2 separate regions of the Homo sapiens genome follow, and region 2 is linked to region 1. A link means that fine-mapping ties the variant in region 1 to the plasma level of a protein whose gene starts in the linked region. Region 1 holds a variant in brackets. A gene starts in the other region. All regions are shown on their reverse strands.

Region 1 (2,904 bases):
GAAGCATACCTTTTTTCTTTCATCAATGGAACTTTAAAAAGTTTCTCACTCACCCACCTGTTTCCTAAACAGATCAGTGCATTGTTGATGACATCACTTACAATGTGAACGACACATTCCACAAGCGTCATGAAGAGGGGCACATGCTGAACTGTACATGCTTCGGTCAGGGTCGGGGCAGGTGGAAGTGTGATCCCGTCGGTGAGTAGCCCTATTTCCCTAGATGAGTTTGCACAGGGGGAATGGTTAGCAAGTTTCAGATAAGAAAAGCTATGTGAAATCACATGACTGAAGTTGGCTCCAGACTTTGATCAGTTGCTTGCAAAGAACTTTGCAAAGTCTTCTCTCTAATACTGGACCAAAATATCTCGATATTGGTAGTCGTCTGGTTTTTGCTGAATTTGGTGACAAATTTAGGCTTATTTTAATTGAATGGAATTTATTCTTGGGTTTAGAATCATAAAGATAATCCATGCTATTAAAAGTATTCTTTCCTTTTTTTTTTGTTTGTTTTTGTTTTTGTTTTTGTTTTTTTGAGAGAGAGTTTCGCTCTTGTTGCCCAGGCTGGAGTGTATGGCACAATCTCGGCTCACTGCAACCTCTGCTTCCTGGGTTCAAGCAATTCTGCTGCCTCAGCCTCCTGAGTAGCTGGGATTACAGGCATGCGCCACCAGGCCCAGCTAATTTTGTATCTTTAGTAGAGATGGGGTTTCTCCATGTGGGTCAGGCTGGTCTCAAACTCACTTCCTTACCAGCTGTGTAACAGCATGAGCAAAGGGTGTAAATATCACCCACCAAAACACTCTAGGTTTTTTTTTGGCCGCCCTTCAAAATAGAACTAAGCAAATAGTGAAGGCTGAGCCTTAAAAGAGCTGTGTTACCAGCACTACAAAGTTTAAGGTGATCCATTACTATTTCTTTACCAAAAGAGACAGGTTGCTCACTGAGAAAACAAACTGATAACATCCGTTTGTTTGACGTGAGATTACCAGAACTGAGAGAGAAGCCTGAGAGGTTTTCTTAGAAGCTGCTCAGCAGGTATACTCGTAAAGTCTAGTTCATTCATTTAAATGTCAAACAGTTTCTTTAAATTTTGAAGAAGTAAGGAAAATGAAATTATTGCAGATTTTTTTCTTGCTATTTAAATGTTAAGCCAGTTATATTAATATGGGTAAAAATAATAACTAATATTTAAAATTAATGTGTAGATTATCAATATACACTGAAATCTAAATCTTTACATTTTTATTTAGAAATATTACCTTTTAGAAAACTAAATATTCCTCCTAATAGGTACTTTGGTTTTTTTTTTACTACAAACTGTCCTGTAAGGTAAAGAATGTGAACAAAATATTTTTTTAACTGCATATATTTGTAAGAACAATTGCAAATTTCTATTTAAGCTAAATGTATGCTCTAGCACCCTGAAATTAAATTCGTAGTTATAAGTCTTCAAGGCTGTTTATCTTTTCCTTCCATGTATTTTAGACCAATGCCAGGATTCAGAGACTGGGACGTTTTATCAAATTGGAGATTCATGGGAGAAGTATGTGCATGGTGTCAGATACCAGTGCTACTGCTATGGCC[G/A]TGGCATTGGGGAGTGGCATTGCCAACCTTTACAGACCTATCCAAGTAAGTAGCTCTATTACTGCAAGTTGAGAACTGCCAATTGGGTTATAACAACAGGGCAGTGATTATTAATGCTCTCATGCCTAAGTTGGGGGTCTCCCCTCTTTCCCACCCTTTTCTCTTGTTATTATCTAATAATCAATTGAATTTTTGATTAAAATAATTTTTCTCTCTTCCTCTATCAAGTAAAAGGTAGAGAAGGCTATGAAAATGTGCCTGTTTATAATTTTACTTCTTAACTCTGTAAAATATTCTGTTAGGTTAAGACACTCTGGCTAATTTCATCTTATATCCATACATGGAAATAAAAACCACCAAGTGAGTTATGCTGGGAGTAAAGGTTTGGGGCTTTATATTATGATTCTTAACAGAGAAGCTGCATAGAGAGATGGCATGAAATGCAGCATAAGGTACGTGTTCATTCAACATGTCATCTAAGCTCCCTTTGCATCAAACTTTTCATTTGTTTGATCAGTTGCCACCAGGAACACAGTATGTTGGGCCAAGGGTTGAGTAACTTGGTCAACTCTCTGCCCACACAGTTCAAACACTCTCAAATGTTTATTGCTGGGTTTTTCCAGGTCACAAAGACATCATGCCTAGCTGTAGGTGTAATTAGTTCATTTGGGGGGAAAATTGCATTTAAATATTCACTGAGTGATTATAATAAAACATGTTAATAAAACATGAAAGGCTAATTAAAAGGCATCAGTTATTTGAGCAACTGCTGAGGTGCAAAGTCTCCAAAGTCTTCACTAACGTTTGACTGAAAATATGGCCTACATTCAGAAACAAAAGAGTTTCAGGGTGTCAGAATCTGCATGCGACAGAAATTAAGATTAACTCTGTGATAAAAGATTCACTGTGACAGAGAACAAGCTATGGGAACAACTTGGCCAAAGGTAGTGTTAGCCAAGCCTCATTCCTCCATTTCCTCATCTGTAATATGGGAAGATTGTAGCTGATTACCTTTAATGTTCCATCCTAAATACTAAACACCCAGATGCACCTTTTCTAGGAACTTGGAAGATTCTGCTTTTCCCAACCCTCAGACACTGTCAGTGCTGGGGAAGGTGACTTCACTTTTGAAGGCTTATAGCACAGATTGACCAACCTCCTAAATTGTATTTCTTGGAGGATTTAGGTGTAGGAATCACTTAATTTTTTGTAACTTAATATATATTTAAATCTGATTGTGGAAGTACTATAAGTATATGAATGGTTTGTTTGTTTATATGATGCAAATGATACTTAAATGGTAGAAACTTCTAAAAA
Region 2 (2,904 bases), not on the chromosome of region 1:
GATGGGTGATTTGGGACAGGAAGTGGAGTAGCAGAGTGAGGGGGAGAGTCATGGCAGGAAAAAAACATTGACTCTGGGCACTCTTATTCTGAGCCTTTCAGCCCGAAGTGGGGCAGGGGACTGGAGAACAGAAGGGACAGGGTTGACAGGATATTATTGACAGGGTATTATTCTGGAAAGTGAGGAGTCCTGGAGGAAAGAGACTGAAAGGACTTGTAGTCCCCTCCCCCAGACTAAGATAAAGGCTAGAATCCTGAAAAGTGATCTCATCACACAGAGCCTGAGCTTGGGGAAGAGGTGGGCAGGGGGTCACTGCCTTCCCTTTCTAGAGTCCCTTCCTCTACTTCCACAGGGGAATCTGGGAAGAATGGGGTCCTGGCTTTCCGCTCCCATTGTTTTTTTGGTTTTTGGTTTTTGGATTTTTTTTTTTTTTTTTTTTTTGGATACAGTCTTGCTCTGTCACCCAGGCTAGAGTGCAGTGGTGCAATCGCGGCTCATTGCAGTCTCTGCCTCCTGGGTTCAAGTAATTATCCTGCCTCAGCTTCCCGAGTAGCTGGGATTACAGGTGCGGACCACCACATCTGGATAATTTTTGTATTTTTAGTGGAGATGGGTTTTGCCATGTTGGCCAGGCTGGTCTTGAACTCCTGGCCTCAGGTGATCTGCTCACCTCGGCATCCCAAAGTGCTGGGATTACAGGTGTGAGCCACCGTGCCTGGCCAGAGCTCCCAGCGTTTACAGCCATTAGGAGCTGAAGGTTGGGTCCCTTTGCAAGACTTTCCACCACCACCACCACCTCTCACAATTCTCCAGGTTTGTAGGAACCCGGCCAGTTTAATCAAGCAGGTACTGAGGGGCCAGCCACTCGCAGGCTTTTGGTCAACTGTCAGATCCAAGGAAGGGGCTCAGCAGAGGTTTACATACCCTAGGACCAAGAAGGGGGCAAACTGGAGCAGAATCCTCCTGATGAATGACCCCAAACTCCTGGGTTTTCAATACTAGCAAGCTTGGAGGAGGAAGCAGCGGAACTTGAGGAGCCCGTGTAGGTCCTCTAGCAAGCTGACTGCGAACGCTGTCTCTGTACCTCAACTGTTGTGTCCCAAATCCAGCTGGCCAGAACCCAGGCACCCGGCGGCCCCGGAAGGCAAGGGGGAATCCCAGTTGGCCGGACGCCAGAGGAGTCTCCTGTCTCTTTAGACCCCAAAGTCTCCTCCCTAAAGCACTGAGGGAGACCCCACACACATATACAGGCTTCCTCCGCCCACCAGAGGTGATTCCTTTCCTCATTAGGAAATTCTCCGCTCCCTTTTCCGACTCGTTTTCCGAGCGTTTACGTTGTACATCTGGAAAGGAATGGGGAGGAAGGAGGGGGAAGCAGAGAGGAGGGGGAAGAACCCAAACCCGCCCAGTCTAACCCAGTCCAGACAACCGGCTTCCAGCTGGGGCTGGGGAAAGGGGGTTGGAGGGGTGCGCCCCCCCCCCACGCCCCTTAGGGGTGGGGGACGCGGGCTCAGAGTTCCAGGGACCCAGGAATGCCCCCCCGCCAGCCCCCTCGGCAGGCGGGGGGAGGGCTCAGCCGGGAGTTTGGCAAACTCCTCCCCGCGTTGAGTCATTCGCCTCTGGGAGGTTTAGGAAGCGGCTCCGGGTCGGTGGCCCCAGGACAGGGAAGAGCGGGCGCTATGGGGAGCCGGACGCCAGAGTCCCCTCTCCACGCCGTGCAGCTGCGCTGGGGCCCCCGGCGCCGACCCCCGCTGCTGCCGCTGCTGTTGCTGCTGCTGCCGCCGCCACCCAGGGTCGGGGGCTTCAACTTAGACGCGGAGGCCCCAGCAGTACTCTCGGGGCCCCCGGGCTCCTTCTTCGGATTCTCAGTGGAGTTTTACCGGCCGGGAACAGACGGGTGAGTGAGGAGGGCTGGAGACGGGATGGGGGTGGGGGAGCCGCCTGGAGACTGGGGGCGCGGCTGGGGTCTGGAGGGGACCAGGGCTTAAGTTTGAGGGTGGAGTTTGTAAGGAATAGAGCTGCAGTTGGGGGCCCTGGCTAGAGTTGGGGGCCCGCGCTGGAGTAGGGAGGGCACCGTGGCGGGTGAGGAGGGGCCCTGGCGTTTGAGATCAGTGGGGAGACATGTGTCCGGTGGGGAGAGGACACGGAGCTGGAGAAGTCTGGGCAGGGGTCTCCGGGCCAAGGGAGAGGAGAGCGCGTGAATGGAGAGCTGAGGGTCTCTGGCTGAAGTCTGTGGGCTGCTGGGACCTGGGGCGGGTGGGGGCGCAGAGGGGGCGCAGAGGCCGGGAAGGGCTTTTGGGGGCTCCAGGAGACCTCGGGATCCGTAGGGGCCATTGTGCGGCGAGAGAACGGGTAGAAGCCGAATGAGCTACGTGTAGTAGGAGGAAAGTCAAAGACTGAGGGGGTCGGAAGGTTAAATGGGGGCCAGCCTCATCCTCCCCTCCCCCCTCAACTCAGACCGGGGAAAGACCCGAGAGAGGACGGCGGCTCCCTCTCCTTTCTCCTCTGTCTCCTACTCCTCCCTCCGCCCCCAATCTCTGTTCAGGCGAGGGGATCCGAGAACTGGGGGCGAGTGCGGGGACCCTGGCACTGGGGCCCTGGGGCTGGGGGCGAACTCAGCCAAGGGCGGGTGCTGGGATGTGTCGGGAGGGGTGTGTGCGCGCGTGAAGGGGGGTGGGCGGTTTCCCTCTTCCTCTGGCTCTTGGGAGGAAGAGAAAAGCTGGTTTCCTGTAGCTGGTCGGCTGGAGCTGTGCTGAGACCGGGACTTCTGGGGCTGGGGTCGGAAGCTGGGGAGACGGGGGCTCCGTGGGGCCAAGAACGTCAGAATGAAGGACTCAGGACCCTGGAAATCTCAAAGGAGGATCCTTATTCCCAACTCAGCACAGTGATAAGCAGACCCGGACC

Which allele goes with the higher level. Alleles are on the strand shown, and positions count from the first base shown. The strength of an association depends on the size of the effect and on how common the allele is.
For the plasma level of the protein whose gene starts at base 1,612 in region 2, allele A in region 1 goes with a lower level than allele G (weak association).

Evidence for each region. PIP is the chance, under the fine-mapping model, that this variant and not a neighbour inherited with it causes the effect. Protein levels are from antibody-based Olink assays in UK Biobank. Linkage for the fine-mapping came from a reference panel and not from the study's own genotypes, which makes the PIPs less certain.
Region 2: ITGA5 starts here. The variant in region 1 is fine-mapped to the plasma level of the ITGA5 protein (UK Biobank, PIP above 0.99).

The regions. Positions count from the first base shown.
Region 1 is chr2:215,417,970-215,420,873 of GRCh38, reverse strand. It overlaps FN1 (fibronectin 1), which reads left to right. Exons shown (of 46, transcript NM_212482.4): 11 at 73-201; 12 at 1,489-1,632. Among named protein-coding and RNA genes, the nearest start is that of FN1-DT, 16 kb to the left of the region's middle. RefSeq lists a silencer at 34-328. The variant G/A (reference allele first, on the strand shown) is at 1,588.
Region 2 is chr12:54,417,974-54,420,877 of GRCh38, reverse strand. ITGA5 (integrin subunit alpha 5) reads left to right here and starts at 1,612. Exons shown (of 30, transcript NM_002205.5): 1 at 1,612-1,897. The coding sequence starts at 1,680. All of the region lies in intron 2 of GPR84-AS1 (GPR84, ZNF385A, ITGA5 and GTSF1 antisense RNA 1), which reads right to left.